3 linked regions of the Homo sapiens genome follow. The protein of the gene in region 1 purifies or fractionates together with the protein of each later gene. This does not show direct contact. Each region holds a gene or a part of one and is shown in the gene's direction. Other genes may lie near its edges.

The links.
Region 2: the proteins of FUNDC2 (region 1) and FAF2 purify together in Homo sapiens (affinity purification with mass spectrometry; 3 studies listed by BioGRID and IntAct, with this or other methods). This does not show direct contact.
Region 3: the proteins of FUNDC2 (region 1) and SEC62 purify together in Homo sapiens (affinity purification with mass spectrometry; 2 studies listed by BioGRID and IntAct, with this or other methods). This does not show direct contact.

The regions. Positions count from the first base shown.
Region 1 is NC_000023.11:155,028,497-155,039,623, forward strand, and holds part of FUNDC2 (FUN14 domain-containing protein 2), read left to right. Parts: intron 1-4,906; coding exon 4,907-5,057; intron 5,058-11,127. UniProt on the Homo sapiens protein: Binds directly and specifically 1,2-Diacyl-sn-glycero-3-phospho-(1'-myo-inositol-3',4',5'-bisphosphate) (PIP3) leading to the recruitment of PIP3 to mitochondria and may play a role in the regulation of the platelet activation via AKT/GSK3B/cGMP signaling pathways.
Region 2 is NC_000005.10:176,489,258-176,500,384, forward strand, and holds part of FAF2 (FAS-associated factor 2), read left to right. Parts: intron 1-2,936; coding exon 2,937-3,075; intron 3,076-4,741; coding exon 4,742-4,827; intron 4,828-4,926; coding exon 4,927-5,018; intron 5,019-7,228; coding exon 7,229-7,406; intron 7,407-9,656; coding exon 9,657-9,828; intron 9,829-10,745; coding exon 10,746-10,889; intron 10,890-11,127. UniProt on the Homo sapiens protein: Plays an important role in endoplasmic reticulum-associated degradation (ERAD) that mediates ubiquitin-dependent degradation of misfolded endoplasmic reticulum proteins.
Region 3 is NC_000003.12:169,974,212-169,985,338, forward strand, and holds part of SEC62 (translocation protein SEC62), read left to right. Parts: intron 1-1,396; coding exon 1,397-1,505; intron 1,506-2,734; coding exon 2,735-2,840; intron 2,841-8,495; coding exon 8,496-8,700; intron 8,701-8,949; coding exon 8,950-9,042; intron 9,043-11,127. UniProt on the Homo sapiens protein: Mediates post-translational transport of precursor polypeptides across endoplasmic reticulum (ER). Proposed to act as a targeting receptor for small presecretory proteins containing short and apolar signal peptides.

The DNA.
Region 1 (11,127 bases):
TAACTACTTGAGAGGCCATGGAGTACCCAGGTACTCAGACATCCATATTTTGTTCTGCTAAATGGGCGTCTGTGATGTATCCTGAATGAATTCTTGAATTATATTTTGTGTATGGTTTAAGGTAGAGGTTGAGAGTAGTTTTTTTTGAAACACAAATATATAGTAGTTCTAACATCATTTGTTGTTTCCTTCATTGAGTTACCTTGGTGCTAAGTTATTAAAAATCAAATGACTATATGTGTGGATCTATTTCTGGATTCTGGATTCTCTTCCATTGCTATATTTGGGTATCCTTGGGTCAGTTTGACAGTGTTGAATGTCATTGCTTTATAAGCCTTGAAATTAAGATAGTTGTATATTATACTGTAGCTTTATAATGAGCCTTGAAATTCCTTGAACCCTCCTCTTTCCCTTGCCCGCCTCCGCCCCCAGGATTATTGTGGCAGTTTGTATTTTCCTGATTGCAGCAATATTTTCCATTCCTTATGGTCTTTTTCCTAGTGACTTTGACACTCCTCCCACCCAGGGGTGGGATCTATATTCCCTCTTCATGAATCTGGATGGGAGTTTGTGACTGACTGCCTGTTCCTACAGAATGCAGTGGAAGTTAACACTGCATTTGCTCTCTCCCTTTCTTGGGACTTTCACCTCCTGAACTCAGCTCCTATGCTGTAAGGAAGCCTAGACTGACTCACATAGAGTAGCAGCCTATCTATCTGTGTGAGTGTAGAGTCTTCAGACCCAGCCTGTAAGTCTTCTGGCTAAAGCCTCAGACATGAAACAAAGACAAACCACAGTGCTGTGGCTGAATTCCTGATCCACAAAATCTGAGAGCATAATATATGATTGTTTTGCTTCATGAAGTTTTGGAGTAATTTGTAGTACAGCCGAAGTAACTGGAACACTGCTGGGTTTTTTTGTATCTTCATATGAATTTTAGAACCAGTTTGTCAATTACATAAAAACCTACTTTTTTGCCGGGCGTGGTGGCTCACTCCTGTAATCCCAGCACTTTGGGAGGCTGAGGCAGGCGGATCACCTGAGGTCGGGAGTTTGAGATCAGCCTGACCAACATGGAGAAACCCTGTCTCTACTAAAAATACAAAAAATTAGCCAGGCGTGGTGGTGCATGCCTGTAATCCCAGCTACTTGGGAGGCTGAGGCAGGAGAATCACTTGAACCTGGGAGGAGGAGGTTGTGGTGAGCCGAGATTGTCATTGCACTCCAGCCTGGGCAAAAAGAGCAAAACTCTATCTCAAAAAAAAAAAAAAAAAGAAAAAAGAAAAAACCTACTTTTTAATTGAGATTGTATTGAATATATAGATCAATATATGGAGAGAATGAACATCTTAAAAATATTGAGTCTTGCAAAACATAAACAGTATATCACTGTTATTTTAGGTCATCTTCAATTTCTTGGCAGTGTTTTGTAGTTTGCAGTGTTTTCTAGTTTACAGTGAACAGGTCTTGTGCATCTTTCATTGAATTTACTACAACATAATTTTTGCAATTAAAATTATTTTGTTTTCCAATTCATCATTTCTAATACACAAAAATTCAAATGACTTTTTAATATTGGTCTTATAATGTGTGACCTTGCTTCTGGTACCTTTTTGTAGATTTTTCTGGGTTTTCTATATACACCGTTATATTATCTGCCAATGAAGACAGAATTATTGTTGTACCTCCTTTCTAATCTCTTTGACTTTTATTTCTTTTCTTTTGTTGCACTGGCTAGGAACTCCAGTACAGTGCTGGGCGAGGTGGCTCACACTTGTAATCCCAGCACTTTGGGAGGCTAAGGAGGGAGGATCACTTGGGGCCAGGAGTTCCAGACCAGCCTAGGCAACAAAGTGAGACCTCCTGTCTACAAAAAAAAAAAAAAAAAAAAAAAAATCAGTTGGTCATAGTGGTGCACAGCTGTAGTCCAGCTACTGGGGAGGCTGAGGTGGGAGGATTGCTTGAGCCCAGAAGTTTGAAGTTGCAGTAATCTGTGATAGTGCCACTGCACTCCAATGTGGGTGATAGAGTGAGACCCTGTCTCAAAACAAAACAAAAAACAGTTGAATAGATTTTAGGGAAAGAAAAGTGTTCCATATTTCACCATTAAGTATGATGTTAGTTGTATATTTTTCATAGATGTCCTATATCAGATTGAAGAAATCCCTTTCTATTCCTATTTTCTACTTTTTTTTTTTTTTTTTTTGAGATGGAGTTTCGCTCTTGTTGCCCAGGAAAATGGGCAGTGGTCTGATCTCGGCTCACTGCAACCTCCGCCTCCCAGGTTCAAGCAATTCTCCCATCTCAGCCTCCTGAGTAGCTGGGATTACAGGCGCCTGCCACTATGCCCGGCTAATTTTTGGTATTTTTAGTAGAGACGGGGTTTTACCATGTTGGCCAGGCTGGTCTCGAACTCCTGACCTCAGGTGATCCACCCGCCTCGGCCTCCCAAAGTGCTTGGATTATAGGCATGAGCCACCACGCCCAGCCCCTATTTTCTACTTTTTATTCTGATTTTTTTCTTTGATTTTAAAGTATAAAATTTCTGTAATTATTATTTTTTTACAGTAAGTATTCATTTAGATTTATCCACCTATTTGCCCATTCCAGTGTCTCATTCCTTTCTGCATTTCCATATTTCCATGTGGCATCATTTCTTGTCGGCCTGAATAACTTTTGTGTACCTCTTTGAATATTACTTCTATCCCATTCTTTCTAATCTTCTGGAACTCCAATTACATATATGTTTAATCTTTTGAGCAGTTTTTGATCATTGTTATTTGCTTACTTCAGCATCTTGATCATCACTGGTTCTGTTTCTGTTTCTGTTTCTTTTTCTTTTTTCTTTTTGGGACTGAGTCTCGCTGTGTCACCCATGCTGGAGTGCAGTGGTGCGATCCTTGGCTCACTGCAACCTTCGCTACCCGCGTTCAAGTGATTTTCCTGTCCCAGCCTCCCGAGTAGCTGGGACTACAGGCACATGCCACCACGCCCAGCTAATTTTTGTATTTTTAGTAGAAACAGGGTTTCACCATGTTGGCCAGGCTGGTCTTGAACTCCAGACTTCAAGTGATCCGTCCCCCAGGCTTTCCAAAGTGCTGGGATACAGGCGTGAGCCACCGTGCCTGGCCTGCTTCTATTTCTTTTATTTAAACAAATTTTGTTTCCTTTATATGGCTTTGCCTTTGCATGGGTAGTAGTCATTTTCTATTGTTTGTTACATTATGTGTGAAAAGATTGTACACACTCCATGCCAGATGAAGTTGATCATTTGAGGTCAATTTTACAGTAAACAGCTTTGAATAGTACATTGCTGACATTTCATATCAGACATTTCTTAGTGCGGTGTGTTTCCAGGGAAACAGGGCTGGGTATAGTAGGGGAGCCTGACATTATCTTCCCACAGAGAAAGGGATTGACATTTTGTTAAGTCTTTCTCCATGCTTGGGCAAATCATTTAACTTTGGAACCTTCATTTCATTTTTTTTTTTTTTCTGAGACGGAGTTTCACTCTTGTTGCCCAGGCTGGAGTGAAGTGGCGCGATCTCGGCTCACTGCCACCTCCACCTCCCCGGTTCCAGTGATTCTCCTGCCTCAGCCTCCCAAGTAGCTGTGATTACAGGCGCATGCCACCATGCCCAGCTAATTTTTGTAGTTTTAGTAGAGACGAGGTTTCACCATGTTGGCCAGGCTGGCCTCAAACTCCTGACCTCAGGTGATCTGCCCACCTTGGCCTCCCAAGGTGTTGGGATTACAGGCGTGAGCCACCACGCCTGGTGCCTTCTTTTTTTTTTTTTTTTTTTTTTTGAGATGGAGTCTCATTCTTGTTGCGCAGGCTAGAGTGCAGTGGTGCGATCTTGGCTCACCGCAACCTCTGCCCCTCAGGTTCAAGTGATTCTCCTCCCGAGTAGCTAGGATTACAGGCATGTGCCACCACCCCCGGCTAATTTTGTATTTTTAGTAGAGATGGGGTTTTTCCATGCTGGTCAGGTTGGTCTTGAACTCCCGACCTCAGGTGATCCACCTGCCTCCGGCCTCCCAAAGTGCTGGGATTACAGGTGTGAGCCACCATGCCTGGCCTTCATTTCTTAATTATAAAATTGAGTTAATAAGTAGTACCTACCTTATTCTGTGGATTAATTAGATGTACATGATTAATGTTTAGCACATTGCCTGGTAAATAGTAAGAGCTCAATTAAACATTACCCTCTCATCTTCATTATCACTGGAGATCCACGTAGTACTTAGAAAATTTGTGGATTACTGAATAGCATTGAGCTACTTCTGAAGAGAAGGGGCAAATTTGTTTCATTTGGGATGCATTACTGGCAGTTTTTTATAGGTCTTTTTGGATTTATTTATTTATTTGAGATGGAGTCTTGCTCTGTTGCCCAGGCTGGAGTGCAGCGGCACTATCTCGGCTCACTGCAACCTTTGCTTCCTGGGTTCAAGCAATTCTTTTGCCTTAGCCTCCTGAGTAGCTGGGATTACAGGTGCCTGCCACCACGCCTGGCTAATTTTTGTATTTGTAGTAGAGATGGGGTTTTGCCATTTTGGCCAGACTGGTTTCGATCTCCTGACCTCAGGTGATTCGCCCACCTCGGCCTCCCAAAGTGCTGGGATTACAGGCGTGAGCCACCGCGCCCAGCCTTTTTTGTTATTTTTAAATTTGAGAGGACAAACTAGAGGACTAATTTGAGATTTTCTAGGTTTTTCCCTGTAATATAGACATTAGTATTTGCTGATTTTAGTCTGATTTTCCAAAATTGCAACTTAGAATAAATTTACTATTTAAAATAGAATATTTGGAGGTTTCTTATTACATTTATGTCTGTTTCTTTAAATATCTCAATCTAGTTAGGTATAAAAGTAAATATTTTCTTATTTAACGTATTACTTCTTGTAGGAAACTTTGAGGGAAATTTTGAGTCACTGGACCTTGCGGAATTTGCTAAGAAGCAGCCATGGTGGCGTAAGCTGTTCGGGCAGGAATCTGGACCTTCAGCAGAAAAGTATAGCGTGGCAACCCAGCTGTTCATTGGAGGTGTCACTGGATGGTAAGTGATGTGAAAGATGTCCACTGTCTTTTGTGCATGATTTAGTATTGCAGTTATAGGTACCATCATCTCCTTTAACCAGTGAAAACACATTGGCTTCTGTGAAATTGGTCACTTAATGTGGAGCATGTATCTAAACATCATCTTAAAGTACCATTTAATGGTTACACATAATGATTGTTTCCTATATGCCAGGTTCTGTTTGAAGTATTTACATAGATATCTCATTTCCTTCTCACAACTCTGGAATTAGTACTGTTATTTTCTATCCTCATTTTATAGAAACTGAGGCTCAGAAAGGTTAGTTTGCCCAAGGCCACATAGCTGGTAACTGGTAGAATAAGGAGCTAACTACTTATTAGCTATGTCAGATGATAACTTAATGTGACACAGCTTATGGTTTCATTTGTAATAAATTCAAAAAGTAATAGCAAATTTCATAGGTGAATATTGAATCCATTAATCTCATAGACTCTTTACATTTGAAAAATTTTATAGCACCATATAGCAAATATAGAACAGCACATTTAACAGGTGTACATTTTAGCAAATACTTGGAGTGAACACCTATGTAACAACTGCTAAGGTTAAAAAAAACGTGGCTAGCGCCCTAGAAACTCGAGAGGTTATTAAGCAGTTATTTCATTGCTTTTCTTTGTAGTTTTAACACCAGTTATGTCACTAAATAACATACTGTGGTTTACCTGCTTTCCACCTTAAAGTAAATGCAATCAGTATGTATTCTTTTGAGTCTTGCTTTTTTCGCTCAACCTGATGTTTCATATATTCAACTACATTGTGTATAGTTGTAGTTTCTTCACTTTCACTTGTATTTTGAGTTCCATTATGTGAATATACCACAGTATATCCAGTTGATGACTGATATTGGAGTTGTTTCCATTTTTGGCTAATACTATGCTTATATGAGTATTAGATTTCCCAGTGTATATGTGCATACATTTCTGTAGGGTCTGTACCTAGAAATTGCTAGGTAATGGGTATAGGTATCTTCAGCTTCACTAAATAATGTCAAACCACCTTCCAAAACTGTTTTTAACAGTTTACAGTCCCAGCAAGGACCAAATGAACCTGTTGTTCTACATGGTGGCACTTGATTTTGCCAGGCTATTAAATTTTTAAAAAATTAGTTAATTTTTCCTTAGCGAGGTAATCAAGTTAAATCCAGACTATAAAAATTTTACCAGTCTGGTAGTTAGGTAGTAGTATTTCATGGTGGCTTCATTTACATTTCCCTGAGTAGGAGTGACATTGATCGACTTTTACGTATGTTTGTTGACCATTTGGATCTCCTCTTTCAGTTCCACTCTAGTTTTTTTCCTCTGAAGTTGTCATTCTTTCCCTTGTTAAGCTGTAAGAGTTCTTTATATATTCTGAATATTCTCAGTCCTTTGTTAGTTGTGTGTATTATAGATATTTTCACTCATTCTGTGGTTATCTTTTCGTTTTATGGTATCTTTTGATGAACTGAAGATCTTATTTTTAATATAGTCAATTTTATCAATCTTAACCTTAATGGTTAGTGATTTTTGTGGCTTATTTAAGTAATCTTTGCCTACCCCATGTTTCAGAACTTTTATTATTTGACCTTTCACATTTAGATTTATTATCCACCTGGAATTGTTATTGTGCTCAGTATGTGGTAGATTCCTTCTTTTCTTCCCCATGTGGAATACCCATTTGTCCCAACTTAATTTATTGTGAAAGCTATCCCTTTCCCCGCTGCTTTATGTGAGTGTGTGTGCGCATGCATATGTGTGTGTCTGCTATCTTGTTCTTTAGGAACATCTTGGCTATTTTCTTTATCTCTTAGTTTTTAAATTTAATAAATAGGTATATTATAAGTTGCACATATTTAAAGTATAAAATTTGATACATTTTTACATATGTACATGCCCATAAAACCATCACCACAGTCAAGATAATGAACATACCTATCACTTCAAAAGCTGCTTTGTACCTCTTTGTAATTCCACGCTCTTTCCTTCATGCCATCCTCCCGCCACTGATCTGCTTTCTATTACTATAGATTATGTTTTCTAGATTCTTTTTAGAAGTGGAATTACATAGTATATATTCTTTTTTGTCTGGCTTCTCTTATTCACCATAATAATATATTTTTTTGTTTTGAGACGGAGTCTTGCTCTGTTGCCCAGACTGGAGTGCAGTGGCACGATCTTGGCTCACCGCCTCCTGGGTTCAAGCAGTTCTCCTGCATCAGCCTTCACCATAATAATTTTGAGATAATCTGTGCTTTTCTGTTTATCAACAGTTCATTCCTTTTTATTGCTAAGTAGTACTCCATTGTATGGATGTACCACAATCTGTTTCTCCATCCACCTTTGATGGACATTTGAGTTTTTTTTTCACTTTTTAGCTGTTACAGATAAAACTTCAAGTTTGTATACAAGTGTACAAGTCTTTGTATGAACATATGCTTTCATTTCTTTTGGGTAAATATCTAGGAATAGTATGGCTGAGTCACGTAGTAAGTGAATGTTCTAAATTTACAAGTACCTGCCAGTTTTTAAAGTGCCTGTACCATCTTACATCTCCACCAGCAATGTGTGAGGGTTCCAGTTCCTCTGCATCCTTACTAACACTTGGTATTATCTTTTTGATTACGAACATCTTAGTGGGTATGAAGTTGTATCTCATTGTGGTTTGAATTTGCGTTTCTCTAATGACTAATGATGTTGAGCATTTTCACGGGCTTATTTTTTGCCATTCATATATCTTTGATGACTTATTTGTTCAAATCTTTTTCCACATATTTTTATTGGGTTGTTGGTTTTCTTTCACTGCTGAATCGTGAGAGTTCTTTAAATATTCTGGATAGAAGTCTTAGATATGTGATTTGCAAATATATTACTTCTCTGTAGCTTTTCATTATCTGAACTGTACCTTTCAAAGAGCAGAAGTTCTTAATCTTGAAGTGCAGCTCTTTTGTAGCTCCAGCTTTTGGTGTCATGTCTGAGAATATTTGCCTAATCCAGGGTCACCAAGATTTTCTCTCGCTTTTTCTAGATTGTATATAGGTTCGGATTTTATATTTAGTTCTGTGATCCATTTTGATTTACTTTTTGTATATAGTATAAGGTAGGAATCCAAGTTTTTTTTGCGTATGGGTATCTAGTTGTCCCCACATTTGTAAAAAAAAGACTGTCTTTTTCTCCACTGAATTGTCTTTACACCTATGTTGAAAATCAGTTGACTATATGTTTTTGAGCTCTTTGTACTGCCAAATTGATCTAGGTGCCATTATCATGCTGTTTTGATTACTGTAACTTAGGTAATGCAAGTCTTGAAATTTTGTTTTTCATCAAAGCTATTTTGAGTATTCTAGGTATTTAGCATTTCCATCTGAATTTTATCTTGTTTTTATACACTCCTCCATATGAATTTTAGAATTAGGTTGCTGCCAGTTTCTGCCAGACACCCGATGAGATTTTGACTGGGATTGCATTGATCCATAAACATTGGTGTATCTCTCCAATTTGTTTAGGTTTTCTTTAATTTCTCTCAGCAATGCTTTGTAGATCTTACACATCTTATATCAGATTTATTCCTAAGTATTTCATATTTTTGATACCATTATAAATGGTATTACTTTCAAAATTTCAAGTTGCCATTGTTCATTGCTTGTATAGTATATAGAAATGCAATAGTTTTCTTTGTATATTGATCTTGTATATTGTAGTCTTGCTAAAAGCCACTTACTAGTTGCAGAGTTCAGGGGTCCCCAAGACCACTGTCATGTTTGATAGTTCTCTAGGAGAATTCACAGAACTCAGAGCTGTTCCACTCAGGGTTATTTTTTTATTTTTTATTTTTTTAACAGAAAATGATACAGATTAACTCAGCCAAGGGAAGAGGCACATGGAATAGGGTATTGTGGAGTCTTTATATTTATATTTATTTATTTTTTTTGAGACATAGTCTCGCTCTCTCACCCAGGCTAGAGTGCAGTGGTGTGATCTTGGCTTATTGCAACCTCTGCCTCCCAGGTTCAAGCAATTCTCTCGCCTCAGCCTCCCAAGTAGCTAGGACTACAGGCGTGAACCATCACACCGGGCTAATTTTTGTATTTTTAGTAGAGTCAGGGTTTCACCATATTGTCCAGGCTGGTCTCAAACTCCTGACCTCAAATGATCTGCCTGCCTCAGCCTTCCAAAGTGCTGGGATTATAGGCGTGAGCCACCACACCCAGCTGAGTCTTTACATGTAAAGTAGGTTTCTTGTAGGTTCCATATAGGTGGTTGTTAATTTTTTAGAATCCAATTTGACAGTCTCTTCCTTTAAATTAGGGTGGTTAGACTATTTACATTTAAGTTTATTTTTAAAATTCTTTTAATTGACTAGTAAAAATTGTAGGCTGGGTGCAGTGGCTCACACCTTTAATACCAGCACTTTGGGAGGCCGAGGCAGGTGGATCATTTGAGCTCAGGAGTTTGAGACCAGCCTGGGCAGCATGGCGAAACCCCATCTCTACAAAAAATAGAAAAATTAGCCGGGCGTGGTGGTATGCGCCTGTAGTCCCAGCTACTTGGGAGGCTGAGGTGGGAGGATGGCTTGAACCTGGGAGGGGGAGGTTGTAGTGAGCCAAGATCATGCCACTGTACTCCATCCAGCATGGGTGACAGAATGAGACCCAGTCTCAAAAAGGAAACAAAACAGCAACACCAAAATTGTATTTATTTGTGGCGTACATGATGTTTTGATATATGTATACATTCTGGAATGGCTAAATCAAGCTATTTAACATGTATTACCTCACATACTTACCATGTTTTTGTGGTGAGAACACTTAAAACCTACTCTTATAGCAATTTTCAAATATATAATATGTTGTTATTAACTGTAGTCACCATGATATACAGTAGATATCCTAAACTTCTTCCTCCTAACTGGAATTTTTGTGTCCTTGACCAACATTTCCCCAACCGCCCCACCCCACAACCTTTGGTCACCACCATTCTCTGTTTCTATGAATTTGACTTTTTTTAGATTCCACATATAAGTGAGACCATTTGGTATTTGTCTTTCTGTGCCTGACTTATTTTACATAGCATAATGTCCTACAGGTTAATCCATGTTGTCACAAATATCAAGATTTCCTTTTTAAGGGTTGAACAGTATTCCATTATGTAATATACCACATTTTCATTATCCATCTGTTGATGGACACTTAAGTTGTCTCTATCTTGGATATTGTGAATAGTTGCAGTGAACACGGGAATGCAGATACCTCTTTAATGTACTGACTTCATATCCTTTGGCTGTATACCCAGTAGTGTGATTGCTGAATCATATGTTATTAGTTCTACTATTTTTAATTTATTGAGGAGTCTCCATACAGTTTTCCATAATGGCTCTACTAATTTACATTCCTACCAACAGTGTACAAAGATTTCCTTTTCTCTACATCCTCACCAACACTTGTTATCTCTTGTCTTTTTGATGATAGCCATCCTAACAGGTGTGAGGTGATAGCTCATTGTGGTTTGCATTTTCCTCATGATTAGTGATGTTGAGCATTTTTTTCATATACCTTATTTATTGGCCATTTGTATGTTTGTATGTCTTCTTTTGAGAAATGTCTATTCAGGTCCTTTGCCCATTTTTAAATCAGGTTGTATTTTTACAATTGAGTTGTTTAATCCCTTGTATATCTTTTATATTAATCTCTTATCAGATATATGCTTTGCAAATATTTTCTCCCATTCTTTAGGTTGTCTCTTCACTCTGTTGATTCCTTTGCTGTACAGAAGCTTTTTAGTTTGATGTAATCCCATTTGTCTATTTTTGCCTTTTGTTGCCTCTGCTTTTCGGGTCATATCCAAAAAATATTTGTGCAGACCAGTGTCATGGAGCTTTCTCCCTGTTTTCTTCTAACAGTTTTACAGTTTCAGGTCTTATATTTAAGTATTTAATCTGTTTCCAGTTGATTTTTGCAATGGTTTGAGATGAGGGTCTCTTTTGCATGTGGATAAACAGTTTGCTTAGGACCATTTTTTGAAGAGACTATCCTTTCCCTGTTGTGTGTTCTTGG
Region 2 (11,127 bases), on another chromosome or scaffold:
AAAACCAGTCTGACTATATTTATTTGTCTCCCCCTCCCCCCCCCACCATATTTGTCACCTCTACACTTCCTAGTTGATGTCCACACCCTTTCCTTTCTAACCACTATCATCTCCTAGCTTCACACTCCTTAGAACTTTCTTCCTCAACTACTTCTCCTCCACCTGACTACTCACAATCCCAACAAATTCTCTTGCTCTGAGATTACCCAGTTTGCCCTTGATTCCTCCCACAATAGTTGGACCTCCCTAGACACTCCTGTTACACCTTTTCTTTCTTTTTCTTTCTTTTTTTGAAACAGAGTCTTGCTCTGTCGCTGTCACCCAGGCTAGAGTGCAGTGCCACCATCTCGACTCACTGCAACCTTCACCTCCTGGGTTCAAGCGATTCTCATACCTCAGCCTCCCAGATAGCTGGGATTACAAGCATGCGCCACCACGCCTGGCTAATTTTTGTATTTTTAGTAGAGACAGTAGAGATGGAGTCTCATTTTGTTGGCCAGGCTGATCTTGAGCTCCCGGCCTCAAGTGATCCACCTGCCTTGGCCTCCCGAAGTGCTGGGATTGCTGGCATGAGCCACCATGCCTGGCAGCTTCGGTACCTTTTCACTTTGCTCTGGCAGCCCCTAGGTTGCAAACACTGGAACCCTTTTATGTATATACCCACTTGCTTCATACCTTCACCTTTCTTCTAGCTTCCTTCATGTACCATTAAAAGAGCTCATCATTGGAAGCTACAGAGGGTCCAAGGCCAGAAAATGAGTGGGGCTCAACTGGCCGGGCTCTGTGGCTCACGCCTGTAATCCCAGCACTTTGGGAGGCTGAGGTGGGCGGATCACAACGTCAGGAGATCAAGACCATCCTGGCTAATACGGTGAAACCCTGTCTCTACTAAAAATACAAAAAATTAGCCGGGCGCGGTGGCTGGTGCCTGTAGTCCCAACTACTCAGGAGGCTGAGGCAGGAGAATGGCGTGAACCCGGGAGGCGGAGCTTGCAGTGAGCCTAGATCGCACCACTGCACTCCAGCCTGGGTGAGAGAGTGGGACTCCGTCTCAAAAAAAAAAAAAAGAAAAAGAAAAGAAAATGAGTGGGGCACAACTTCTTAGCATGTCAGGCTTGGGTTATCTGGTCCAGAGCCATGTCTAGGCTTTATGGGGAACTTAAATGTTCAAGGGCATCCAGGCCAGCAGATGGAGCTGGGATATGTAGTCTGGGCCTTCCCTGGAAGTACAGGTTCCCTGTACTTCCCTTCAAATATGGGACAGCCTTTACCCTGCCTCTAGGGAGCAGAGGCTGAAGTTGTGGGTCCAGCAGCTGCATAAGTACAAGGGTCAGATAGTACCTTTTATATTGGACCCTTGGTGTTTTATGAGGCTGTCTACTTAATGGCTTTCTTGGTTTAGCAACATTCTTCATGATCACTAATTGCTTAGTACTCTTTCCATCCCCATTTTATTTAAGAATGAACATGTAAAAATCTTTAAAATCATAATGAAAACTAAGTTGACATCTCTGTTTTTTTCTAAAAAATCAAAAAAGCTGATTGTCCTAAATTGTGTAGATCGTGGGAATATTGTGTAATGAGGAAAAAAAAATAAAGGCTTTAAGAGAGAATTCTAAAATGCTTAATTTCAAAGAAAGTAGTTAAAACATCAGTCTTCTGATGAATTTCTAACCATTCCCCCACGTATACAACTTACTACATTTTGTGCTTTTAATTCGCTCTGGAACGTTGTTGTCAATGAATTTGGTTTGATTACTCGGGAGAAATTCCAAGTAGAATTGTATACACAGGGGGAATTTGTTGGGATAATGAATTGACTCACTTTTTGTTAAGGAAAAGTATCACAGTTTAATCACCTTGTCTGTGCTGAAAACGTTTTAAGTAAATGAATATTGTTTGCTTTTCTAGGGAAAATATGCACGGCATGTATTACTAATTTTAATGCAGCTGTATCATCCAACCAGCTTGTTTAATGTTAGGTAACACATTATCCTCTGTCCTGTTGCCTTCTCTGGAAACCCAAAGGATAAATAAATGGTACTATACAAATAGGGTAGGCCCTTTAGAAACAGATGTGTGGTACCATTAGGTATGTATTCTTCACTTTACAAGAGCTGCCAGTACTCCACATCTGCCAGGGTACTGTGGAGCAGTTTTATAACTTCCTCCATGGTTGCCATCAACCATAAATCATCAAGCAAAAGGTACTTGCCCCTTTGAAGAGCAAGTAAGTCATAACCGCAACTTCAGATTTGAAGTTCCTATCCGTAAGTTGAATAGTTTGGGGTTGTGAACTCAATATTTAAAATCCCAGGAAAACAGAAAGGAGAAGGAGGGGCAAGTAGGACAACCAGAAAATGACCTCTGTTCTAGAGCACTGTCCAGTAGAACTCTCTGTGATGATAGAAACGTTCTGTATCTCCGCTGTTCAGTATGAAAGCCATTAAACACGTGGCTGTTGAGCACTTGAAATGTGGCTAGCATTACTAAGGAACTGAATTTTAATTGTATGTAATAGATTTAAATTCAGAATAGCCACATTTGACTAGTGGCTACAGTACTTAGACGGTGCCATTCTAGAGAGTCTGGGTGCATAGCCTGACACATGATCTTTTTGGATACTGTGTCTTCCCTTCCAAACCCTTCTAGCCCTAAATTGTTCTACAAAAAATACTCAGGATTTATGTAGGCCAGTGTTGGAATTTATAATCCCAGTAGTTTGCATTCTTCCTGAACAGGCAATAGAATAACACTTGCTGCTTTATGGCTTTTGAACCAGACTCTACTCTCGGATTTGATGGTCCACTCACAGACTGTTCACCTCCCTTTGTTGCCGTGCCTCTGGCTCTGTTACAGGAATCTGTACAAATTGGCCCACTCGATATGCACTGTAGTAAGCTGGATTCATGTGATATTTATTCCTTCCTCCCCAGGTTTGCTCTTCGTTTTATACGGCCTGACCCTCGCAGCCGGGTCACTGACCCCGTTGGGGACATTGTTTCATTTATGCACTCTTTTGAAGAGAAATATGGGAGGGCACACCCTGTCTTCTACCAGGGAACGTACAGCCAGGTCAGTGCCATAAACCATATAGATGCCAACTTACCGAAATGATTCTATCCTCAAAGGAGAGCACAGCCCAGCACTGATCATGTCCTTCTTGTACTCAAAAACCTTAATTAGCTCTTCACTGCTTATAGGGGTGGGTAATAAAAAAGACCAAACCTTTTAGCTGGCCCCTCTTTGATCTAATGCTGCCCTTCTTTTGAGGTCTTTTCTGCATAACTTATTTTACCATACCCTCAGTTCCAGCTGACTCATTCCCTGAACATAGTCTGTACTTGCCTACCTCTGTGCCTTTGCTTTTGCCGGTCCATCCACGTGGAATGCCTTCCTCACATTTTTGCTAATTGGAATCTTGCCAGTCCTTCAACTAGATTATGTCACGCCCCACTTACAGCTATCCCTGATTGTTGTGCCCTGTCCTGCCCTATCTCATCATCTAGAATACTAATCTTTCCCTTTGTTCTTCCATAGCTTTTAAAAATTGATAGCAATTTTATATTCTTTCCTATATCATTTGTGTTCGTGTCTAATCTCTGCTACCAGACTGAAAGCCCCTTGAAGGCAAAGCCTACATCTTCTTTGATCTCTCACAGAATTGAATAAGGACATAGACCATAGACTCAGGGTAGCACATCTCATTCAACCTCAGCCATGTAGACCTTTGACTCAAGACCTCACCATTCAGGGGAGGAAAAATTAGAGTTCTGTGGGTGTTTGGTATATCTCTAGTTTGCCAGAGAAATACATAGAATTAACACTACAGGAATAGGGAAAACTATGGGAATGCTGTGGCAATAGGCAAAAGGGGGTTCTATTATGCAGCCTCCAGAATTCCTGAATCTATCTGGAGAAAGAAAAATGCTCACCCTTGCTTCCTGCTTTCATTTTCCCACATCTGCTTTTTATCATAGTCAGTCTCCTCGCTGGCTGTTCCCACCACACTCAACAAAAACTGAGCACCTACTGTATGCCAGGCAATGTCCTCAGTGCTAGAGATACAGAGATGAGTGAGATGAGCACCTCCTGTGTACCCTCTCTGCTATGATCCTGAGGGTAGACCACCCTTGACCATGTCAGCAGTCGTACAGTGTAATGTGCTCAGGAGCACGCACATGCAGGAGCACGCACAGGAGTCTTCGGCGCTAGCCTTGTCTTTGAAAGTCTTTTACACCCTATGCTCTTTAGAATGCCTTTGGATCGTACAGTCCATCATTCCTACTCGATATGTGGCCTGGGATCAGGGTTGTCTTCGCAGTTATTTTTTACTTACAAGGATGTTGTAGCTGTGAAGTAGAAAAATTCTCACCTCCCTTTCATATGGTCAGATTCTCCTGTTTTTATCTTCCTTAGACTGTGGGTGCAGCTGACTTTTCTGTGGTTTGTTGGGAACCTGTGTTTGTAAGCCTGTCTACTCTCATGTGTCTGTTAAGTTTGAATCCTAACAACACTAAAACCTTTTCATTAAAGCTTGTTAGCGTGGAGTTTCTATAGGGAGAACAATGCCAGGGGTGTGAAGGTAGGAGCTCAGGAATTTTCTGATTTCTTGCTCACCTTTTTTCCTTATTTTTCCTTTTGTTCCTAAATACATAACTGTATCCATTAGGACCCTTAGCTTAAATATAAGCTCAAGGCACAGTCTTCTTAATAGTGAGTGACCTTCTCTTTCTCACAGGCACTTAACGATGCCAAAAGGGAGCTTCGCTTTCTTTTGGTTTATCTTCATGGAGATGATCACCAGGACTCTGATGAGTTTTGTCGGTAAGTGGATTGATTATTTTCCTTCTCTTTTCTGACTCTTTCTGGTGACAGTTTATAGTCAGCAAGTTGTTCTCATATCCTTTTCATACCTTTCCACAGCAACACACTCTGTGCACCTGAAGTTATTTCACTAATAAACACTAGGATGCTCTTCTGGGCATGCTCTACAAACAAACCTGAGGGATACAGGGGTAAGTTATGTTTCTTCTGCCTCATTGAGATTGTTGGAGTATCTTTGGAATAGTCTGGAAAGACATGCCATGCCATTTATTACAAGTGTGTTTGTTCTGTGGTAGATACGACGCTAGTTGCTATTTTATATTGTCTCATTTAATCCTCTCAGCAGTCCTGAGAGATGGGGGGTCATATTACCTTTGCTTTATGGTTTAGGAAATAGGCTCAGAGAGTTCAAGCCACTGGCTGAAGATCACACAATTAGCAAGTTTTATTTTTTTTGTTTTTATTTAATTAATTAAAAAAATTTTTTTGAGATGGAGTCTTGCTCTGTCGCCCAGGCTGGAGTGCAGTGGTGCGATCTTGGCTCACTGCAACCTCCACCTCCTGGGTTCAAGCGATTGTCCTGCCTCAGCCTCCTGAGTAGCTGGAACTACAGGCATGCACCACCACGCCCAGCTAATTTTTTTGTATTTTTAGTAGAGATGGGGTTTCACCATGTAGCCTCAAACTCCTGGACTCAAGTGAGCAGCCCACCTCAGCCTCCCAAAGTGCTGGGATTACAGGTGTGAGCCACTGTGCCCCGCCATAATTAGCAAGTTGTAGCGTACAGTCGGGTCTGCCAGATTCTAAAGCCCGTTCTTCACATTCAGCATTGCCAAAGCCTGCCACATTCATAGAAATACCCAGTCTTGGCTAGCAGCTTGCTTTTAATCTTAATGGGCTTTTTACTGAAGAGTTTATTCTTTTCATCAACGATTTTAACAGAGCCCTTGCATAGTGAGTCAGTTGTTTGAGTACCTTGAGTGCTGATATGGATTTGGAAAGTTCAGATCTTTGCTGACAATAACTCTTCTTTGGAGATAAGTATTTTTAGACGGTTAGTAAAAGATACGAAGGCATCCAGTGAGGAAAAATGTAGTCATTTTTGTGGCTACTTCTATCCAGCAACTTTTGAGTTTATATTAGCATGCCACATACTGTGCCATGTCTTGAGAACCAAAGATGTGGCAGATGTTGTCCCTGCATCCCAGAGTCTGAATCTTAAGCCTAATTGTTTTTAAACATCCAAATTCCTGCATGCGTTTTGCCATTCTAATATGGCTTTGCAGGGGGCAGAAGGGAGGTTGTGAATAGAAGGAAGGTAAGGATTTTTTTTTAATAGAAGTTTATAAAATCTCTTATTTCACACCATAAGGAAAACATAGGTAAAACTCTGTTATGGTAAAAATCTTGGTCATTTGGACACCAATTTTTTTTTTTTTTTTTTTGAGACCAAGTTTTACTCTGTCACCCAGGTTGGAGTGCAGTGGTGCGATCTCAGTTCACTGCAGCCTCCACCTCCCGGGTTCAAGCGATTCTCCTGCCTCAGCCTCTCGCCTATCTGGAATTACAGGCGCGTACCACCACACCCTGCTAATTTTTGTATTTTTTGTAGAGATGGGGTTTCATTATGTTGGCCAGGCTGGTCTCAAACCCCTGACCTCAAGTGATCCAACCACCTCCGCCTCCCAAAAGTGCTAGGATTAAAGGTGGAGCTACCAGCCCAGCCTCAACTTTCTATTAATAAGCTTCTTTGGAACAGAAAAACTAACCTTTTTAAGGGTGGAGAAAAGTTACGTGGGGAGAAAGGATAAGGAAAGGATTAGGCAAGAGAAAAAAAAATGATGATGGAGATTATTATCAGTATCATCAGGCTGAGACTTGCAGCCTTGTGCCCTTTTAGGTTTGAGCCCTTGTACAGGGAAAAACTGTGCCAGATTCTTTATAGATCCTTTTTGTACCATCAAGTAGACATTATCCTTAAACTCTGCAGCCTTCCCTGGCATCATCACAACAACCACACCGCCACCAGGAAAGCCTGTCCTATTCTAGTCAAGCACCTAGGGATAGGCATGCAAATTGATAACAAAAACAAAAGATTACAAAACTGGGAGGAACTGGGCATGGTGGCACACTCCTGTAATCCCTGCTTCTCAGGAGGCTGAGGTGGGAGGGTCACTTGAGCCCAGGAGCTGGAGACCAGCCTGAGCAACATAGTGAGACCCTGGCTCAAAAAAAGAAAAGAAAGAAACTAGGAGGCGGGGAAAAAGCGGAGACTAAATGATACCTCTCGTCTTCCCCAACCAGGATTAAAACAGTTCTCTCTCACTCATTGTGGAAAGTCTAAGGGTTGATCTTTTTCACCGTCAAGTCCTGCCCTTGATCTGTTGGGTCTTTTTATCAGTCTCACAGGCTTTACGAGAGAACACCTATCCATTCCTGGCCATGATTATGCTGAAGGATCGAAGGATGACTGTGGTGGGACGGCTAGAAGGCCTCATTCAACCTGATGACCTCATTAACCAACTGACATTTATCATGGATGCTAACCAGACTTACCTGGTGTCAGAACGCCTAGAAAGGTACAAGGGAGTTCCCTTCTGGAACAGAGAGAGACCAGTTGTAAATTTGGAGGGCTGACCTCTGGGGCTCTACCAATCCTGACTTCTTCTGTGCATCAGGCCGCTATTAGCTTTTAGCTTTGCCCATTTATTGTCAAAATATTTACATACTTTGACCTAAATTACTCTATATCAGGTAATCTGTTCTTAGAGATGTTCAAAATAAAGACAAGGGCTGGGTGCAGTGGCTAACACCTGAAATCCTAGCACGTTAGGAGGCTGAGGCAGGAGGATTACTTGAATCCAGACTGGGCAGCAAAGCGAGACCCCATCTCTACAAAAAATAAGAAAAAATTAGCTAGGCATGGTGGTACATGCCTGTAGTCCCAGGTCCTTGGGAGCCCGAGGCAGGAGGATTGCTTGAGGCCAGGAGTTCGAGGCAGCAGTGAGCTCTGATTGTGCCTCTGCACTCCAGCCTGGATGACAGAGCAGGACTCTGTCTTTAAAAAATAATAAATGAATGAATAAACAAAGACAGGCCTCTGTGCTCAAGAATGTATATTGTGGCATTTAGAATAGCTGAATATAATATAAAGAACTTCGATGTAAAAAAAAAAGTGGAATGGTTATAATTCCTCTCCATTACATAAGTTATGTACATTAATTATAGGAAATCCTAAAACCACAAAAAAGCACAAGGAAGAAATTTAAGATCACTGATAAACCTACCACCACTTGAACATTGTTATAAATTTTTTTAATTTTATACACAACACACACCCCTATATACGTACACATTTATTTGTAAAATTGGGATAATACTTTTTTACAACCCTTCTTTATGTAAGAATATATCACGGCCTTTTCCCTCATCATTAAATATTCTGCCACATTTTAAAAATTACTGCATAACATTCCATTATCTAAATACATCATAATTTAACCAGGCCACTCTCGTTGGATTTTTAGATTATTTTCGGTTTGTTACTATTATAATTAGCATATAGGGAGATAATTTTTTGCAATTTGTGATGGTTTCCTTAGATTAAAATTTAAATTCCTGGAAGTGCAGTTTCTGGGTGAGACAATCAATATAAGTATATTTTAAGGCTCTTGATTTGTAATGCCAACTTGCCCTCAAGAAAGTTAAACAAACTTAAATTTTATGGAAAGTTTTTAATAACATGGGGACATGCTTGTTACATATTAGAAAAATGCAGAATCAGGCCGAGCATGTTGGCTCATACCTGTAATCCGAGCATTTCGGGAGGCTGAGGTAAGAAGATTGCTTGAACTCAGGAGTTTGAGGTCAGCCCGGGCAACATGGTGAAACCCCATCTCTACAAAAAATACAAAAATTAGCTAGGCGTGGTGGCACACGCCTGTAAGCTGAGGTGGCAGGATTGCTTTAGCCTAGGAGGTTGAGGCTGCAGTGAGTCATGATCGCACCACTGCACTCTAGCCTGGGTGACAGGCTAGCCCTGTCTCCAAAAAAAAAGAAAAATGCAAGATCAAAATCCTGTAAATAATAGCGTTATTTTAACTGTGTAAAAAAATGTATAGAACAGGAAACTTTCCGAGGTAACTGAAATGTTCTGTCTTGATTGGAGTGGTGATTACATGGTTACATTTATCAAAATTCATTGAATTGTACATTTAAGATCTGTGCATTTCACTGCATGTAAATTTTATCTTAATTTTTAAAGATAAAATCTGTTCAACTATTTTGATTGGCTAAATATTTTGGCTAAGAGAAAACAGAAATTTGTTGGAGAGAAAATAGGAGATATGCCAAATGTTATAATGTTTTATCTTTGATTAGTGATTCTCTGAATGACTCTGAAAACTCTACATTTTCAGATCTGCTACAATGTGTGTATGGATATATATGTGTGTGTTTTGGTTTTATGAGATCAGTACAAAAATGCAGTCACCCAAAATGGTATTTACTTGTAAAATATGATATTGATGATCCCTTCATAATAACAGTACTGTGTCACATTTGTTAGAATTAGGGGAAAAGTTTTATTTTAAAAGAGGAGAGGAAAGCTTGCTGTTTCCTTTTCTGCCAAATTAAACTGAGAAAAAAGGTGGCTTATTCAGATTCTGCCACGCTCTGCTTTTGGAATCCCTTATGGCAGTGTGAAATCGTCATCTGCTAAGAATATCAACATTTTTACACACACACACACACAGAAGATTTCAATATAAGAAAACACAGAACTTTGTGAGAGTGCTGTTTTTCTTCTCTTGCTTTTGATCTATTCACAGGGAAGAAAGAAACCAGACCCAAGTGCTGAGACAACAGCAGGATGAGGCCTACCTGGCCTCTCTCAGAGCTGACCAGGAGAAAGAAAGAAAGAAACGGGAGGAGCGGGAGCGTAAGCGGCGGAAGGAGGAGGAGGTGCAACAGCAAAAGTTGGCAGAGGAGAGACGGCGGCAGGTAATGGACGTGTGGCTTTACTCCCTGTGGTTCCCAAACTGCCGAGACTTTGCCATCTTGGTCTTAAGTGTGAAAGGAAAAAATGATAGCCACCTTAAACAGACTAAGAGGGAAAAAAAAAAAGGAAAAAGGAAAGAAAAAATTACAACATGTTGGAATTAGGGGTGATTTAAATTTTTCATACCATTTAAATATTCATTCTTTTTTAAATAAAAATTTAAAAAAAGAGACGGGCTTTGCCATATTGGCCAGGCTGCTCTCGAACTCCTGACCTCACATGATCTGCCTGTCTTGGCCTTCCAAAGTGTTGGGATTACAGGCGTGAGCCACCATGCCTGGCCCTAAATATTCATTCTTAATACCAGTATTAGCTGATTTGGCATTTTACTCATTATCTTTTTGTTTTTGTTTTGTTTTGTTTTGTTGTTGTTTTTGTTCCCTAGCAATCAGACTGAGATATACATTATCTTATTTGATTATGTATTACCGCTTACCTATAACCAGTGTCTTTTAGTCATTTCCTTTTATTTCTTTTTTTTTTTTAAGAGACAGGGTCTCACTGTGTTGCCCAGGCTGGCGTGCAGTGGCTATTCACCAGTGCAATCATGGAGCACTACACCCTGAAACTCTTGGGCTTAAGAAGTCCTGCTGTGGCCTCTGAAGTAGCTGGAACTACAGGCACATACCATGGCACCCTGCTCCCTTTCTCCTTTTTCTCAAATAAATACCTAGACATAATAAAGAATACATGAGATGCAATTGTACTTTAAATTTAGGTTGTTTTTGACTATTCCTGAGAGGTTTTTCTTAGAATACTTAGTCATTAATTTTTCTTCTGACGACTGCGTAATAAAGCTACATGGTCATTGTATTTATTTCTTGAGCTGTAGCCTCACCTTTGCTTTGTGTCTCTGCAGAATTTACAGGAGGAAAAGGAAAGGAAGTTGGAATGCCTGCCCCCTGAACCTTCCCCTGATGACCCTGAAAGTGTCAAGATCATCTTCAAATTACCTAATGATTCTCGAGTAGAGAGACGATTCCACTTTTCACAGTCTCTAACAGTAAGGACCACCTAAGTTCTGTGAAGTGTATGTAGCATCTGGGCTATAGATTTGGAGCTTTTACTGACTCTTGAGAGTGGTGTTGGTGTATCTGCTGCTCTGATGAACAGGGAACAGAGAGAGAGAGAGAGAGATGGGTATGCCATCCGTGGACACCAGGAAGAGTACCGAGGACTGCTGTAGGCTCCTTCAGTTCTAGTTTCCAACTCAAAGCAATTTTTAAGTTTTTGTTTAATTA
Region 3 (11,127 bases), on another chromosome or scaffold:
TTATTCTTTAATGAAGCAGCCCTTCCTGAAATCATTCACATTTAGATTATATGTTGCTGGAAATACTGAATGTTCTGTGTATTGTGCTTAAGCATGCAATTATAGACAGTAATTAAGTACAGTGCATTTGTTTCAATAGCTTACAGCAATAAGACAGCTTTTGAAAGTTTATACATAAGATGTATACAAAGATAGACTGCCTTCATTTTCTTCAGTACGTGAGTAGGGAAAATAAATTCACAGGAGGAATTGTCAAAGAAGTTCAGAATGAAAGGGAATAAAGGGAAGATGGGGAATGAGAAACAATGAAGAAAATAATAGAAAATTTGGGAAAAGATATAGAAGAAAGAAAGCAGAGAAGGATTAAAACGGCCTTTCCAAAACGACTCTTTGTCAGTGCACTTCCATTAATCACCTCTTCAAATGAGATAGTAATAACTCTTTTTGCATTTTTCATTTTTGCCTCACCCTTACTGGAGAAGAGAAGATGAGAAAGACAGTCCCAGGAGTGTCTGGTATCTGCAGCCACAGGGGGAAAGGAAAGAGAATACAAATTGTCATTGTGTCAGTAGTTCTTATGGCTACCACATTGGGGGCAGCTGTCATTGATTAATTTGAGAACTCCTTCTGCGATCTGTTGTCCATTGTTCAGGATACATATCTTTGGCTGTTATTTTAACATTTATTTATGACACTTGTTTCTACTTACTTTGACATTTGGATACTCACTATTAGCAACATCTTATCTTTTTAATTACTGTTTTGTGGCTTATAAAAAGAGACTATAGGCCGGTGACGATGGCTCACGCCTGTAATCCCAGCACTTTGGGAGGCCTAGGCTGGCGGATCACTTGAGGTCAGGAGTTCAAGACCACCCTAGCCAACGTGGCGAAACCCTGTCTCTACTAAAAATACAAAAATTAGCTGGGCATGGTGGCAGGCACCTGTAATACCAGCTACTTGGGAGGCTGAGGCAGGAGAGTCACTTGAACTCAGGAGGCAGAGGTTGCAGTGAGCCGAGATCGCACCACTGCACTCTAGCCTAGGCAACAGAGTGAGACTCCATCTCAAAAAAAAAAAAAAAAAAGACCGTATAAGAATGAAAGTGAACTGGTACAAAGTAGTTACCATTGTGGAAAAAACAACTCAAATGCCTCATAGTTGAAGCCAAGAAGCAGACAGGCTTTGCCTCTATCAACTTATATTTGAAAAACGTAGTTTCTTTAAATCTCCATTTTTGTCTTTTGAATACTTTATTAGGTCGCTCCAGAGAAAGCTTGAAAGCAAGGCCTGTACTCCACTTGAAAAGATTCATAAAATAGATTTGTAAATTATTATTCAGCGCATGAATTTCTCAAGTATATGATTATACTAAATTAATATTCATATGTTGCAGGAAGTTGGTGAACCATCTAAAGAAGAGAAGGCTGTGGCCAAGTATCTTCGATTCAACTGTCCAACAAAGTCCACCAATATGATGGGTCACCGGGTTGATTATTTTATTGGTAGGATTATATCAGTAAAATCGTATTAGTGTACATATGTTATGAAGTTAACCTACATTTGGGATATGTAGAAGTTTTAAAAGTGCTTTCCAAATGTGATTGTTCTGGTGATGGACATATGGCAGTTGATTATTCTGTTCTTTTCTTTTATGATTGAAAATGTCTATAATAAAAAGATAACATGTTTTCTAATAACAATTGTTGGAAATTTTTTTAAATAGGATTTATTTTCAGTGTTTTAAAATACTACCTTTTGTTTAGATAGTATGCGTACTTGGAACTAAGAGCACTGGCTTTTTTTCCCCAAACAATGTCATTATAAGCTGATGTCATTTATAACACCAGAGCTTATAAGTAGGGGTTGAGTTTGCCTTTCTCATCAATTAAAAGTGAATTGCAGCTGGGTGTCGTGGCTCACACCTATAGTACCAACACTTTGGGAAGCCAAGGCAGGAGGGTTGCTTGAGGCCAGGAGTTCGAGACCAGCCTATGCAACACAATGAGACCCCATCTCTACAAAAAAATTAGATGAGTATGATGGCATGCGCCTCTGAAGTGAGAGGATGGCTTGAGCCCAGGAGTTAGAGGCTGCAGTTAACTATGATCCCACCACTGTACTCCAGCCTGGGTGACAGAGCAAGAACCTGTCTCTTAGAAGAAAAAAAAAACTAAATTGCCAGTGTAGAGGAAAAGTCCTTTATCGTCTCTTTCTTTACTGTTTTTAATGATTTGACATTCATTACAAGTTTTAAAAAGTAGATGTGCTAATCTCTTCAGATATAATATGTTTAGCTGTTTCTTGTGACAGCAGTGGATTGTTGACAGAGCTTCTTCCTCAGTGTATTAGAGTAAAACTTGATGAGAATTTTTATTACTTGCAGGGAGTGGTGAACATTTTGGTTTATCTACATATGCTTGTGATTAATAAGAGTGATAGTTACATACAGATATTTTAAATTTTTGAATATTTCCCCATTAATTTAACTTGCTTTAGTTGGTCTTTCTGAATGCCATTATTTCCCAACATTACTTTTAAAAGATACTTAATATAGTTCACAAGTTGAGGTTTTGGGGAACTACTAATCATGATCATGTTAGATTTAGTTTTCTGTTGAGTTTGGTTTTCTTTTTTGTTGCCAGAGTGTTGAAATTTTACTTTATAAAATATTATTTAGATAGACATAAATCCCCATGTATGCTAAATTTAAAATAATGAATTTCTTCTTTAGCTTCAAAAGCAGTGGACTGTCTTTTGGATTCAAAGTGGGCAAAGGCCAAGAAAGGAGAGGAAGCTTTATTTACAACCAGGGAGTCTGTGGTTGACTACTGCAACAGGTACTGTTTATTTCTTAGTGAAGAATAACATAATAATTTTAAATTTTCTTCATAGTCCTGAAGCTCCTTACATCATTAAATGTAGTGATACTACAACATAACTCAAATACTGTTTTCACATGTAACCTGATTTCTTTGGTACCTCTGGAAATGTGTTTGGTATTAGACTATTATACTTTTAACTGTATATAATTTTTATTTATGTTCTATTTTATATATTTGTGAGCCCTACTGAAGGGTCAGCAACAAAAGTCATATACCAGTGCCTACAGTAGAAAAGAAAGTTTTTTCTTTTGTAGAGCAAATTGGTTGAGGAGTCTTTTTTTCAAAACTTTTGCAGGAATTCCTATTAGCTGTGTTACCGCTACTTTTTTAGTGCCTGCACCCTGAGCCATAAGCCTCATACCCTTTCCTATTTGGTTCAGTGTTTGCTAATGTAGTATTTCTTCTAAAATCAAGGAAGCTGCAACATCTACCTTATCTTTTTCTGAGAATTTCAAGATGAAATACAGCTAATTCAGTAATATACATATATTTTTCATAATAGATACTTTTTCTGTTTTGAAAAAACTTTTGATGTTAAGTGGTTTACCTAAAAGACAAAATCACCTTCCTTTTGGAAGGAAGTATGCTGGTTTTTCTTTCCATTTCTTTTCTTTTTTTTCTTGGTTTACTTAATACTAAGCATTTTCTTAATATATGTTAACTAAATTTTGTTTTCATAACACTAAAGCTTATCTTTTGGGATTTTAGATTATTTTATGTGTACTAATATTTTATTTAATGGCACCTAAAGTATCAGCCACATAAGAACCCTCTTAAAAACCACTATTTCACAACCTGGTTTCTTAAGCTGTCAAGTTAAAGAATTATTGAATATTTCTTAAAATTCTTAGTTGCCAAAGACTAGAGGTTACTAACAGACCTTTTAGAAACAGTAGGTTTCGGCCAGGCACAGTGGCTCATGCCCGTAATCCCAGCACTTTGGGAGGCCGAGGCAGGTGGATCACAAGGTCAGGAGATCGAGACCATTCTGGCTAACAAGGTGAAACCCCATCTCTACTAAAAATACAAAAAATTAGCCAGGTGTGGTGGCGGGCACCTATAGTCCCAGCTACTCGGGAGGCTGAGGCAGGAGAATGGCGTGAACCCGGGAGGCGGAGCTTGCAGTGAGCCGAGGTTGCGCCACTGCACTCCAGCCTGGGCGACAGAGTGAGACATTGTTGAGACAAGGATGAGCTAACACTCATGCAGTTGATATTTGCTTGTCTTTTGTAGCAACTTGTCTAGTTAGAATTAGCTCCAGCAAGCATATATCCAGGGCAACTTGAATCTGCTCGTGGGGAAAAAATAAAAAGGTGAATAGAATTAGCTCCACGGTACAAACTTCCAGGCTGGGCACAGTGGTTCACGCCTGTAATCCTGACACTTTGGGAGACCAAGGCAGGGAGATCACATGAGGCCAGGAGTTCAAGACCAGCCTGGCCAACATAGCGAAACCCCATCTCTACTAAAAATACAAAAATTAGCCAGGCGTGGTGGCATGCACCTGTAGTCCCAGCAACTTGGGTGACTGAGACATGAAAATAGCTTCAGCCCGGGAGGTGGAGGTTGCAGTGAGCCGAGATCGCACCACTGCACTCCAACCTGGGTGACAGAGCAAGACTCTGTCTTAAAAACAAACCAAAAAGTACAAACTTCCTTACCTGCCACAAAACTGATGTATTTTTTACATGTTGTGTAAAAATTAAGAGATGCTACAAATGCAGAAACTGGGGCACAGAGAACTTAAGTACTTTATCTAAGGCTACACAGCTAGCAAGTGGCAGATCTAGGGTTCTACATCTAGCAGCCTGTCTCCACAGTCTGTGTTCTTAACTACCGCTCTATACTGTCTCCTCCAACAAAATGACGATGCATTTAATGGAGCTATTAGATCTGTAAGCCCAAATCTCTGAGTAGAGCAGCCAGTATGAATCCACATTTTTTGGCTTTTTAGGAGCCTTGGTACCTTGTTATTTGAAAAGCTCAAAAGACCTGAGTACAGAGAGTGTCCAAAGACACTCGATTTTCATTGTATACGCTCTTCCCACTGATGTCAGATTGTTTGAGTCCTTTCTGCACTAAAATAAATGAGAATAGCATAACTTTAAGGTCTCCAGAGCCACTTCTAATATAACCGTAGAGTCTTATTGGCCAGTTCTCATGAGTTGCTGCCCAATAGCAGACAAAATCACAAAGGGTCTCTTGACCAGTTTCTTTTTTTCTTTTTTTGGCATCCTCCAATACTGTCAGTTTTTCTGAGGCAGCTAAGTGGCATGAGGGAGTCTGAGGAAAAACAAAATAGGAAAATGTAGGATGATAAAACAATCTTTTCTAATGTGATCTATACCTTTTTATGGCCTATATCATGAATGAACTCATACATACTAGGTTAAGTCTCCACAAGACTTTGTATCACTGACCCCCAATCCAGTTATGTCGTCCTCAGTCTTGTGCACATGCCACACTCATTTTTTCTTCTAGTCTTTTTCCTATCATAACTTGCCACTTTCCCTAAACGGTTCTGTTTCCTCTGTCCCACCTGCCTCTCAAAATCACAAACAAATCCCTCAAGTCCTTCCTCTACCGAATGTACTCTTCCCCAGGCCCTCCAGCCTTCATCAGCCTTTGTATCTAAAGTTCTACTGAGTTTATCAAGTTAGTACCTCCCAGTTTGGCCCTTAACTATTTTAGAATTGCTACATATGTGTGAGTTTTTTTAAAATCTCCTGCCAGCTAAATCTGAAAACAATTGTAAGACTGTTTTATACTTTATTGTAACTCCATAGCAATTACCACAGTGTGAGCACTTCATAAAAACTCACCTTTGCCACATTGGTGGAAGTCCCCAACATGTCTGGCATTTAATAAATGTTTGTTAAATCTGAAAAAAAAATGGAAGTGAAGGAAAAAAATACAGAAGTAATTTTTTAAATGTTTTAGAAGCTGTTTTAAAACCACTTACTCAACAAATAGTCTAGGCTCCAGGAATACAATAATAACTATGACTTGGTCCCTACATCAAAACATATTCTGATCTGTTAGGGAAGATTTATAACTAATCACAATGCAGTGTGTTGAATAAGGAAGAGAGAGATGGTGAAACTATGAAGAATGACATCACACAGAAAATGTTTTAAGTAAATTTTGAAACATAAATAGGTGATTACCCAACAAACAAGAGAAGAAAGGAAATTCATTCCAAGCAAAGGGCATAGAACACACCGAGATAGGAAAGTATGAGTAGTTGTGTAAAAATGTCAGAGAGTTTTATGTTAGTAATGTGTTCTATGTCATGGGTTTAAAGCCAAACAAACGGAGGCTCTGATACTATACAAATGTTAAATAATGTCAGTCTCATCTTTCAACCTAATTGTGAAATTATTTTCAACACAATTTGATTGAAAGTTAATAATCTACTTTTCTTTCGTGGGGGTGGGCAGCTGTGCAGGAAAATTGACAGAAGCAGATGATCCTGCTGGTTCTATTGCCTTCAGTATCTACTCATCAGGGAAAAGGCTTTTTTCTACTAAAGTTGCATTGTTTGTTTTTAAAATTCTTTATTAAGAATCATTTTTTCCACTAAAGTAAATTTAAGAAAATGGGAACTGTTGCAAATGATTTAGAAGAAAATCCAAATTACTAATAATGTTGCTTCGTAGATAGCCAGCCACATTACCATTTGAGAATATATACTTCAAGTATCTGTATGTGTACACATGTACTCTTAATATATGGACATGTATATTAACTGCATTATAAAATGCTGCTTTTTCAATTAACATATGAGGAACAGGATGTATTTTTATTTTCATTTGGAGTGGAAATAAATGTTCCTGAAAGAAAATCTGGAAATCATATAAGTGCACAAAGAAAATTAGAATATATTTTCATTATAGATTTTTTTTGTAAGACATTCTGGAGTAAAAAATGTAAGACTACACTTCATATTCAAATATGCCACTACTATTCTTAAATCCCACTTTGTACTCATAAGTAGTTAATCATTAAGGTCTCATTTCAGATTCTTGTTTGTTTATATATGTATATGTATTCATAGCAGATATGATGGTAGCATTTTGAGGGGCAGTTTGAACATTTGCACAATTATATGCACAATCATATTTACATAATTTAAAAATAGCTCTTCCAAATAAGTAGTATGGGCCAAATGAGGAAACCTAGAAATTAGCTTTGTGGAAGTGCTCATAGGCTGGACCTAATTGGGGAGCAGATGGAAGCCCAGCCAGGCAGGTAAAACATAGAAACATAGGTGCTTCAGGGGACTGAACACAGTGACAAAAAGAAGTGGTTATCTGGGCAGGAAGAAAGCATCTAGTTAACAAGTGCTGTGATGTGCTGGAGCAGGCACCAGTGAGGTGTAAGTAGAAAGGTAGCTAGATAGTCACCATTAGCAGGCACCAGTGGTGGTAGTGAGACGTAGCTTCTAGATTGTATTGTGGCAATTAGACATTATCAAAGCAGGAATGGAGAAACCAATCAGAAATTCTGAAACTAGAACATGAGATTTGAAAAAGTGACTTTTAGATGACAAAAATAAGGGCAACCCAATTTCTTGAGTAGGATTGTAAGGTTAAAGAGAAACTACCAAGCAACGTTGACTTAATCTGGGGTCAGATAAAAAATGAATAAAGCAAGGATCTCTCTCTCTCTTAAGAAGTTTACCGTCTAGTGAAGGAGCAAACAACTACTACAAATTATATAGTGAGTTAGAAGATAAGTGCTATGGATAGGGTAACAGGAAACGAGAGAATGGGAAGGTGGGCTTATGTTTTAAACAGAGTAGGTTGTGGTTGAGGGAAAACTTGAAGGAAGGGAGTGAAACAAAAGGACCTGCTTATTTGGGGGAAGAGCATTCTAAGTAAAGGGAACAGCCAGTGTGAAGGCCCTAAGGTGAGAATATAAAATATAGTAATAACTGATAAAAAGAGAGAAAACAATCTATTTAGAGAGAAATTAGTGAAACCAGGAATACATCATGTTTTGCCAAATATATTGCACATTTTTCAATTTGATGTTGTGCACGTCCTTTTCAGAGTCCAAAAATCTCACCTTAGTATATTTAATCATTGCTTAATTGAAGATAATCATTACAGTGGCACACTGAATTGCGAAGTACTTGGAGAAAAAATAACACCAAGAAAGCTGAAAAGACATTATTTGGACCCATCAAATCATCACTTTTAATCTGTTAACATTTCTTAAACTGTTTATTTTCTCCTTTCTTTATTACGTCAGCTCTTGCATTTGAGACTTAACATAAAGTGAAGCTGAGTCTTGATTATATGAACCCAGAAAGAGTCTTTATATGGATAATCTCAAACCTATAATCTCTTTTATACTTAAGGTACATCATTAAAAGTGAAAATTATATTGAATATCACTGAGTTTTGACAACTTTTATATAATTGACTGTAAAGTGTTTTGATTTAGTGGTAGAGTTGACTACTTTTTCACGGGCATACTAGTTGTAATTTCTCTTGTGTTGCTAATTTATGCCTTCCTTTGCTTATTTTATTCAGGTCTTGATATTTTTGCTTTTCAGTCTCTATCTATATGGGGAGTGTAATGCCATACCTGTTTTTCCCAAAGGCTTTTAAAGAAGCAGTTTTTTCACCGAGCCCTAAAAGTAATGAAAATGAAATATGATAAAGACATAAAGAAAGAAAAAGATAAAGGAAAAGCTGAAAGTGGAAAAGAAGAAGATAAAAAGAGCAAGAAAGAAAATATAAAGGATGAGAAGACAAAAAAAGAAAAAGAGAAAAAAAAAGATGGTGAAAAGGAAGAATCCAAAAAGGTGAGTTAATCTAAAATTAAGTAAAAATTTAAAAATCATTATGTGCACATGAACACTACTGGCCTATGAGCACATTTAAGTATTATGCAACACCTACCTGAGATAACTATATTAGAGTTGTTATAAATACCGTGGTTGAGAATTTTTATTTCTGTGTTACAAATAGTCAGTGAAAGTTTTTTGACTGTATGAACATCATATTTCTTGCTTACTTGTGTTATTTCTTCTGTCCAACTTGTGTTTTCATAGGAGGAAACTCCAGGAACTCCTAAAAAGAAGGAAACTAAGAAAAAATTCAAACTTGAGCCACATGATGATCAGGTTTTTCTGGATGGAAATGAGGTGAGAGTAAGCCTATAACTAGAAGTTCAGTTTTCTATAGGAGTTTTTAGAAAGATGTTTGATGCCTTCACTAATAAAAGGAAAAATTTTGAGAAATCTAATTATGCTCTTAAATGTATAAAAGCTACTCCATTTTTAAAAATCAATAATTTCTCTTATTTAGATTTTTAAAAGTCAGATTTGACTGTGAGTGATAGGAAACCTGAAATAAAAGCATCTTAATACAAAATAGATGCTTATTTCTTTTTTATCAGTGAAATCTGTAGGTAAGCTGTACAGATACGTCAGCTCCATGGTGGATCCCAGCTCTTCTTTTCTCCTCTGTCTGAGGCTTCTAGCTAAGGTTACCTTATGGTCCAGAATGACTGCCAATCTTATATCTGCATCGAAAAGAGGAAAGGAGAGTGAAGAATATGTCTCCTCTTTAAGGAGACCAGTTTAAGGACACTGTCCAGAAAGCTGGTAATTTCATTTCTGCTTGAATTCCATTGGCCAGAACATAGTCACATGGTCATGCATATGAGAAGTAAAATCTTGGAAATGCACTTTTTATACAGGATGATTATTTGCCCAGCCGAAATGTAGGGTTTCCATTATTATCAAAGAAAAAAGAGCAGAATAGGAGATAGCTACAAGTCTCTATCTCTTACAGAATGTAAGTCAGACACATCACTTGAGGGGCTTAAAATTTTTAACATTTCTTGATGCTTTATGCTTATCATTTGTAATGGAAGATTTGTATGGTGGTAGCCTTCCATAAAGACTGCTTAATTCAGTCACTTCACCAGTACGTAAACATGAGTTATATACTGGGCATTGAACTGTTGTGAATTTCAGGATATATCCTTTCCTGTTATACCTATACAATAGTAACATCTATAAAGTCATGGCTCCTAGGGTTGTGTGTTTGAAATTCTTACTTGCATGAGACTATCTAGAGTGGGATTGTGGGGGAGGATTATATATCTATAATAAAGTGTCCTCAGGTGACTGATGTGAACCCCTTGTTGAGAACCACTGTAATAGAAATTTTTATTTTTATAGGCGTTGGGAATAGCTTGATAAGTAGGATAAAATCTCTTAATGGTCTAGCAAAGATACAGGCACTTAAACATGTTAATATAGTACAGTGTGGTAAGCATTAATGGTGTGAAAGCACCAGGTAGGAATAGTTAATTTAGTCAGGAAGGATAAGAAGGGTCTAAAGGACATTTGAGCTTAGACTTGAAGATGACTGGCAGATTGCCAGGCGTGCCAGGAAGGAGGTTAGGTCTGTTAGGGAAGGAAACAGCCTGAGCAAACGCATGGGTGCTTGGTATCCTGAGAAGCCTAGATTTTATTCTGTAGAAAGCAGCATGCACTCCATAACTTTTAAAGTTGTGAAATATCTTTTTTAAAAAAACATGTTTTTTTAGAATGGAAACTGGCAGAAGTAATATCTGTGAATCTGATTCCCAAGGAAATGGGCAGAGTAAAATAAGAGGTTAAAGTGGAACCTCTGGTGTTAAAAATTGAAGAACCACGTTGGAAAGACAATAAAGAGTTCTGGTCAATATAGAAATAAGAGGGAAGAGTACTGTTATTTATAGAAACTAAGAAATAAAACTGAGTTTTATGGATGAATGATCAAACAGAGTTCTGATCTGAATGAAGTAAATTTCTGTTGTGTAAAATAAGAGCCTGATAAAAGTAAATTAAGTTTTGAAGTAGTGGTTCCCAGCTTATGGGCCCTCCATGGAGGAGTAGGCAATGAAATTAATACAGTCATAGAGACTATGTTCACCAAGCATGATCTTTAATAATTGATCTTTGTGTCTTCTCAGGAGAGAAAAGTGTGGAGTTGAGTGATACTAGATCTGTAATAGGGCCTGGCTGGAATCTGTCTTAACTGCGCTTTTATCCCAGACTGGTTCATCATTACATTAGGGACAAAAAGGTTGGCAGTTGCTGGTGTTTTGGTTGAATAAATAATGATGTGCACACATGGAACAATTTTTTTTTCCCCCAAGACAGAGTCTTGCTCTGTCGCCCATGCTGGAGTGCAGTGGTGTGATCTCAGCTAACTGCAACCTCTGCCTCCTGGGT